2 separate regions of the Homo sapiens genome follow, and region 2 is linked to region 1. Evidence: fine-mapped expression QTL. A gene starts in region 1. The other region holds a variant in brackets. All regions are shown on one strand. Distances are from middle to middle. Region 1 holds the start of GAS6 (growth arrest specific 6). Region 2 overlaps LINC00452 (long intergenic non-protein coding RNA 452).

The links. PIP is the estimated chance that this variant, and not a neighbour inherited with it, causes the effect. A credible set is the group of variants that fine-mapping cannot tell apart.
Region 2: its variant is the best candidate, but not a certain one, in a credible set for the expression of GAS6 in fibroblasts (GTEx, PIP 0.67).

The regions. Positions count from the first base shown.
Region 1 is chr13:113,862,803-113,865,708 of GRCh38, reverse strand. It overlaps GAS6 (growth arrest specific 6), which reads left to right and starts at 1,633. Exons shown (of 15, transcript NM_000820.4): 1 at 1,633-1,876; 2 at 1,968-2,134. The coding sequence starts at 1,789. It overlaps GAS6-DT (GAS6 divergent transcript), which reads right to left and starts at 1,532. Exons shown (of 2, transcript NR_044993.1): 1 at 1,414-1,532; 2 at 1-699. RefSeq lists silencers at 1,940-1,999, 2,020-2,079, 2,560-2,609 and an enhancer at 1,628-2,219.
Region 2 is chr13:113,904,762-113,907,667 of GRCh38, reverse strand. All of the region lies in intron 3 of LINC00452 (long intergenic non-protein coding RNA 452), which reads right to left. Among named protein-coding and RNA genes, the nearest start is that of LINC00452, 11 kb to the right of the region's middle. The variant A/G (reference allele first, on the strand shown) is at 1,411.

The sequences.
Region 1 (2,906 bases):
GCTGGAACCCTTAGGAAATAATAGCTAGAAGTGCCTCAGACACTGCCTGGCACACAGCAGGTGCTCAATGAATTACACTGCCTGGCACATAGTAGGTGCTCAATGAATTGTCTGATGAAGTGATTAAGGAGCCTTGTAAATACTGATTAAAACATGTATCACCCCATCCAATTTTTCAAACCAGTGCTTCTCAAGAACAAGCAGGAAAATTAATGTAATATTGTTTTGAAGTAGCCGTGGTGGTTTCGGGGCAGAAGCCCAGGGGTACTCCTTACTCCGCCTGCTCCAGTAACTAGCTGACATGGAAGTGCCTCGTCATTCTGGTTCAGACACAGGTGCAGATAGATGACTTCTCTATCCCACTTTAATTCTCCTTGAAGATCATTCCCAGGGACATTCATTTGCTTAAATTAACATGCTCGGCCAGGCGCGGTGGCTCACACCTGTAATCCCAGCACTTTGGGAGGCCCAGGCGGGCGGATCACGAGGTCAGGAGATTGAGATCATCCTGGCTAACACGGTGAAACCCCGTCTCTACTAAAAATAAAAAAAATCAGCCGGGCGTGGTGGCGGGCGCCTGTGGTCCCAGCTACTCGGGAGGCTGAGGCAGGAGAATGGCGTGAACCCGGGAGGCGGAGCTTGCAGTGAGCAGAGATCACGCCACTGCACCCCAGCCTGGGCAACATAGCGAGACTCCGTCTGAAAACAAACAAACAACAACAACAAAAATTCATGCTCATAATCCCACTTTCAAACCAGTGACCTCAAAGATTTCTAGCAGCAATCCTATTCCATTCTTCCAATTACAGAAAGCAAAGAGAAACTGGATCTGGGGATCTAAGCGTTGAGCCTGCTGAGCAGAACGGCCATTCATTTGGGGTGAGGTGCTGACTCACTGCCCCTCTACATTGCATTTTGGGGTGTGGGGATTTCCAGAGCAGGATTCTCCAGAGAGGAGTATCCAAGCTCCCTCCTCCCGCAGCAGGGGGATGCTGGGCTAACTGCCTGGTTCGGTCCCCCGTGAGTGGTCTGCTGTGTTTTGGTTCTGTTTGTTTGTGTGTGTTTTGCCTATGACTTTGCGAAATATTCCAAGACAAGAGCCAGAAAGTCTTGGTCTCTGAAGACAAGCACAATGTTGCTTTCAGCTTAAATATCTACTGGGAAACCTCAAGATTTTTAATGTCATCATTATGAAAAACAGAGATTATAAAAGGAAACCGTCGCATTTCACTCGCTGGCCCCCAGTGGGATTGGATCTGACCTCAGTGTATCTTTTCTTTGGTAGGTTTTAAGTCTTGACAAAATGTGCCTAAGAATGAAGACTCCAAAAAGGATGCAGTAGATTCGGGGGGAGTGGGGGTTGGAAAGAGGCTTAAATCTTCACATGACACCTGGAATATGGTCAAAATGTACCTGCTCAAGTTGAACCAGGTATTGCGTCCTCCTTTTACCCCATCGCTAGTGAAGACAACCACCGCCTGGGGAGACGCTCCTTTTCCGAAACACTCGAGTCCCGCCGCGTCCCGGACGCTCCGCTTTCCCCGCGCCCGGATCCTCCCGGGAACCCGCGCCCCGCCCGCGCGCTGGTCCCGCCCCCGCCGCCTCCCCGCGCGCAGCCGCCCGAACACGCCCAGACCGAGCGCTTGAGGTGCCGCAGCCGCCGCCGCCGCCGCCGCCGCGATGTGACCTTCAGGGCCGCCAGGACGGGATGACCGGAGCCTCCGCCCCGCGGCGCCCGCGGCTCGCCTCGGCCTCCCGGGCGCTCTGACCGCGCGTCCCCGGCCCGCCATGGCCCCTTCGCTCTCGCCCGGGCCCGCCGCCCTGCGCCGCGCGCCGCAGCTGCTGCTGCTGCTGCTGGCCGCGGAGTGCGCGCTTGGTGAGTCCCGCGGGCCCGAGACCCCGTCCCCGGGCGGCGGGAGGAGGCTCCGGGCGCGGCTTGACGCGTCCCCCTCTCTCCCTCCGGGCAGCCGCGCTGTTGCCGGCGCGCGAGGCCACGCAGTTCCTGCGGCCCAGGCAGCGCCGCGCCTTTCAGGTCTTCGAGGAGGCCAAGCAGGGCCACCTGGAGAGGGAGTGCGTGGAGGAGCTGTGCAGCCGCGAGGAGGCGCGGGAGGTGTTCGAGAACGACCCCGAGACGGTGAGCAGCCGGCGGGCGGGATGCGGGGGAACCCCTGGCGCCCGCGCGCCTCCAACCGCTCCCGAGAGGCAGCGCTGCTGCCGCCCCCCAGCTCCGCGCGGCGAGGCCTGGCCTCAGGGTCCCAGGAGCCCCGGCCCGCCCCGCGTCCCCCACGCCCATCCCCCGGCGACCCCGGGATCCCCGCGCAGGCCGGTGAGACGCTGCGGGGCTGTCCGGGAAACGCTCGCTGTCAGACGCCTCCCCGCGGGGAAGCCGGGAGTCCGTTTCCAAAGTGCGAGAGAAACACAATGGTTAAAACCCAAACCGCTTCCCCGCGGCCCTCCCTCTGCTGGGCTGGAGGTGAGGAACCCCCGGGCCGCGCCTCGTCCTCCTGAGAGGGGTGGAGAGCAGTCCCCTCCCGAAAGAGGAATTGAAAGGGCCGAGGGCGGGAACTGCTTGCGGCAGCAGGTCCAAAAATAAGATTCCAGGAATCGAGCGGGGCCGCATGCGGGAGGGGAGGGCGGCTCCGCGGCCCCGTTCTGCCAGGTGCTCTCCTGGAGGCAGCGGGTGCTTTCAGGAGCCCGACGGTGCTGGCCCCGGCACCTCGGTTAGGAATGTCCTTGGAGAAGGCGGGGCGCCCGGGGCCGCCTCCCGCAGGAGCCGCCGTGTGAGGACGGCCTGGCCACTCTATCCTGCGGGCTCGGGAGCGGGTGACTTTGGAAAGTCCGAGAAGGTGTGGATTCCCGTTGACGTCCCTCCCGCCCTGAAGTCAGGGTGATTTCATAGCGAAGTT
Region 2 (2,906 bases), 42 kb before region 1:
AAGTTAGTAAAATTAAGAGAGGAAATTACAATGATGGTGAGTAAAATCAATATAGAAATCCAATAGCATTCCCAGATGCTAGCAATAACCACCTCGCAAGCAAGAGTGAGGGGGAGCCTGTTCGAAATAACAACCCAGCATCTTAAATACCCAGGACTTGTTAGGCCAAGAGATGAGTACAAAATTTATATTGAAGAAACAACAAATTTTGTAAGGAACTATAGGAAAAAATTGGGTCAGTTGAGAGATGTCAGCATGATACCAAAGGCAGAAACCAGAGATGGGAGGACCGGTAAGTCTGAGAGCATAAAAATATAAAACCCACCATGTACACATTTGTAAAGCAAACAGAAATATAAAACTCCACTAAGGGACATGAAAAAGCAGGTGACTAGATGCAGAAACATGCTGAACACTTAGGAGCCCTTTTATTTGTTGAAATATTTTCAAATAAGTGAAAAAATCAGGTAAAGCAGGAAATTGACAATGATACATATACATCTCAAATGCTTCCTTTTAACTTAAAATATATGAGTCTGAATTGATTTGATTCTTGTGAGAACATCTCTGTGAGGTCTGCTCTTTGAATTTGTTTTTTCCTGGCAAAAAGAAAAGAAATTTTAAAAATCTTATAATTCATCACTCATGGTTTTACGCTTTATTTCCTTAAATTAAGGCAAGAATTAAAGATGCTGTCATGGTGATCTGAGGGCAGAATCCCTTTGAATGTCATCTTCCTCCAATTTTTACAGCTTTCTTGCATATATTTGGTTTTGCAGCATTAAAAACACTTTGCCAGTTTGTCTCCACCAAGCCTTCCTGAGCGCTCTCCCACTCTGCAGTCCTGGCCCATTCCCAAGAGGCAGAGATGCATGCAGAGGGCACCAGCGGGCCTGGCAGCCACCCTTGGCTCTGCTGAGCCTTAGCTGTGGGAGAGGCCACCTGGGCCCCCGGCTCTGGATGTGTGTGGAGGGATGGAGGGTGCAGGCTGGCCTGGCATGTCGGCTATGTGTGGCCAACCAGAAGAGCTTGGCACCACCCTTGACAGGAAAACTCAATATTTGATTCCCTAATTCCTCCCCTAGGAATTTTTCCTAATGGAACTCAGTGCCCACTTCATAGTAGTGGTTATCTCTGCATAAATTTTATTTCCTTCTTTGTGTTTTCCTGTATTTTTCAAATGGTCTGCAATCTACACGGATTACTTTTATAATTAGAAAAAAATTAATTGTAAAAACATTGTTTGAAGTTTAAAGAGTGCCATCTTGGTTACTACTCAAATCTTTATACTGTCCTTACGTTTTTCAGTGTTAACCCAAACTGTGACGCCCATCTCCCTAGGACACATCATAGGAAGGCCTGCTTCAGTGAGAATGCACTCGAGATAGGAAATTACCCGTGTTGATAAGC[A/G]GGGCCTGCCTATGTTTTTAAATTTCAGGCTCCCTAATAAAAGGAGTAGGATAAAATGCCAGCATGCTGACATTTCAGGACACTGCCGTCCGGCGGGGGACTGCGCACAGCGCTGCCCACTCTGTTCTGACCCCCACTGTCCTCTGACTCCTCCTGGGTTGTCCTGCCATGTTCCCATGGGGAAGGTGTCACACCCAGTGCCAGTGGGTGATGATCAGAGGGGATATGACAGGGCTCTAGGTGGTACCTGGATGGATATTTTTTAAAATAGTTACTAATTTATTTTAGTGTGCTGTAGAAAAAACCAGGCAGCACAATGGACCTTCAATCTCACACAGATGTATTTAAATGTATTTAAATGTAAACATATTTTACATTTAAATGTATTTAATGAGTCTATTGAAGATGCCCTAGGTAGACAATAATTCAGAGCACATGGATATGGCAAAACTTTGAAATCTGCACACAGAAGGGTGCAATTTGGGAAACTGTCATATGAAATCGCACTTGGGCTGCACATTACGAACACGGCAGGTCGTATCTGTGTGTTTTCATTGCTTTTAAATCTCTTTTAGCAGCTCATTCTGTGCAGGCACCGGTTCTGATTTACTTAAGAAGATGGTCTTAACTTCCCTTTGATGGGTATCGTCATCCTTTCTCTTAGTTGGTTTCAGTATTATTGCAATAGGATATACTGAAGTTTTGAATAATTTATTAAACGAATCTTTACTTCCTAGATACAACTATCTTGACTTTTTTCTAAGTACTACACTTTTGAAGTAAAATAAAGCCTCACCTCAACAACAGAAGTGGGGTCCAGAACATCCCGTGGGTAGGATGTGGGAGCTTTCCTGCAAGGTCGAGTGGCCCCTGCTGGGACCCTACCTCTGGCTTAAACTGTGACGGAAAGATTCTGGGTATTGTGGTTGCCTGGAGCTTCCACGATTCAGCAAGGATTCCAGGACTGTCCTGGGGAGTAGCTGCCGTTTAATTAGCCTGACAGAGAGATCGCTCCTGGAGAAGCCTGTAGACGCAGGACTCCTGCCTTGTTGAAGGATCAGATGTAGCAAGTGAAGAGGGAAGGTGAGGAGGCTGCCAGGCAGCCGGTCAGTGGGTGCCGCTTAAGAGAAAGTGTTGGCCAGGACTGCAGGGGCAAGAACCAGGACACAGGCCTTTGATTTGTTACCTGAAGGGCCTGCTGGGGCTCGGATGCAGGTTGGTGACAGACTCAAACTTGCCATAACCTTTTCCTCAATGTATCCTCATTCCAAAAGTCTAGGGGATTAATTCCAAAATAGTTAGATAGCCCCCTTGTATTTCTTCGTGGGTGTTTTTATGATCCTTCCTCTTTCTTTATCACCTTAAAGCCTGACAAGCAGATGCCTGGGGATGGGGCTGGGGTGATGAAACCTTTTAGCATTGCTTGGGATGAGGCTTGCTGCCTGTGAAATCAATGCCAAGATGCGCTTTGAGTAAGGAAACTTTCTGGAATTAAC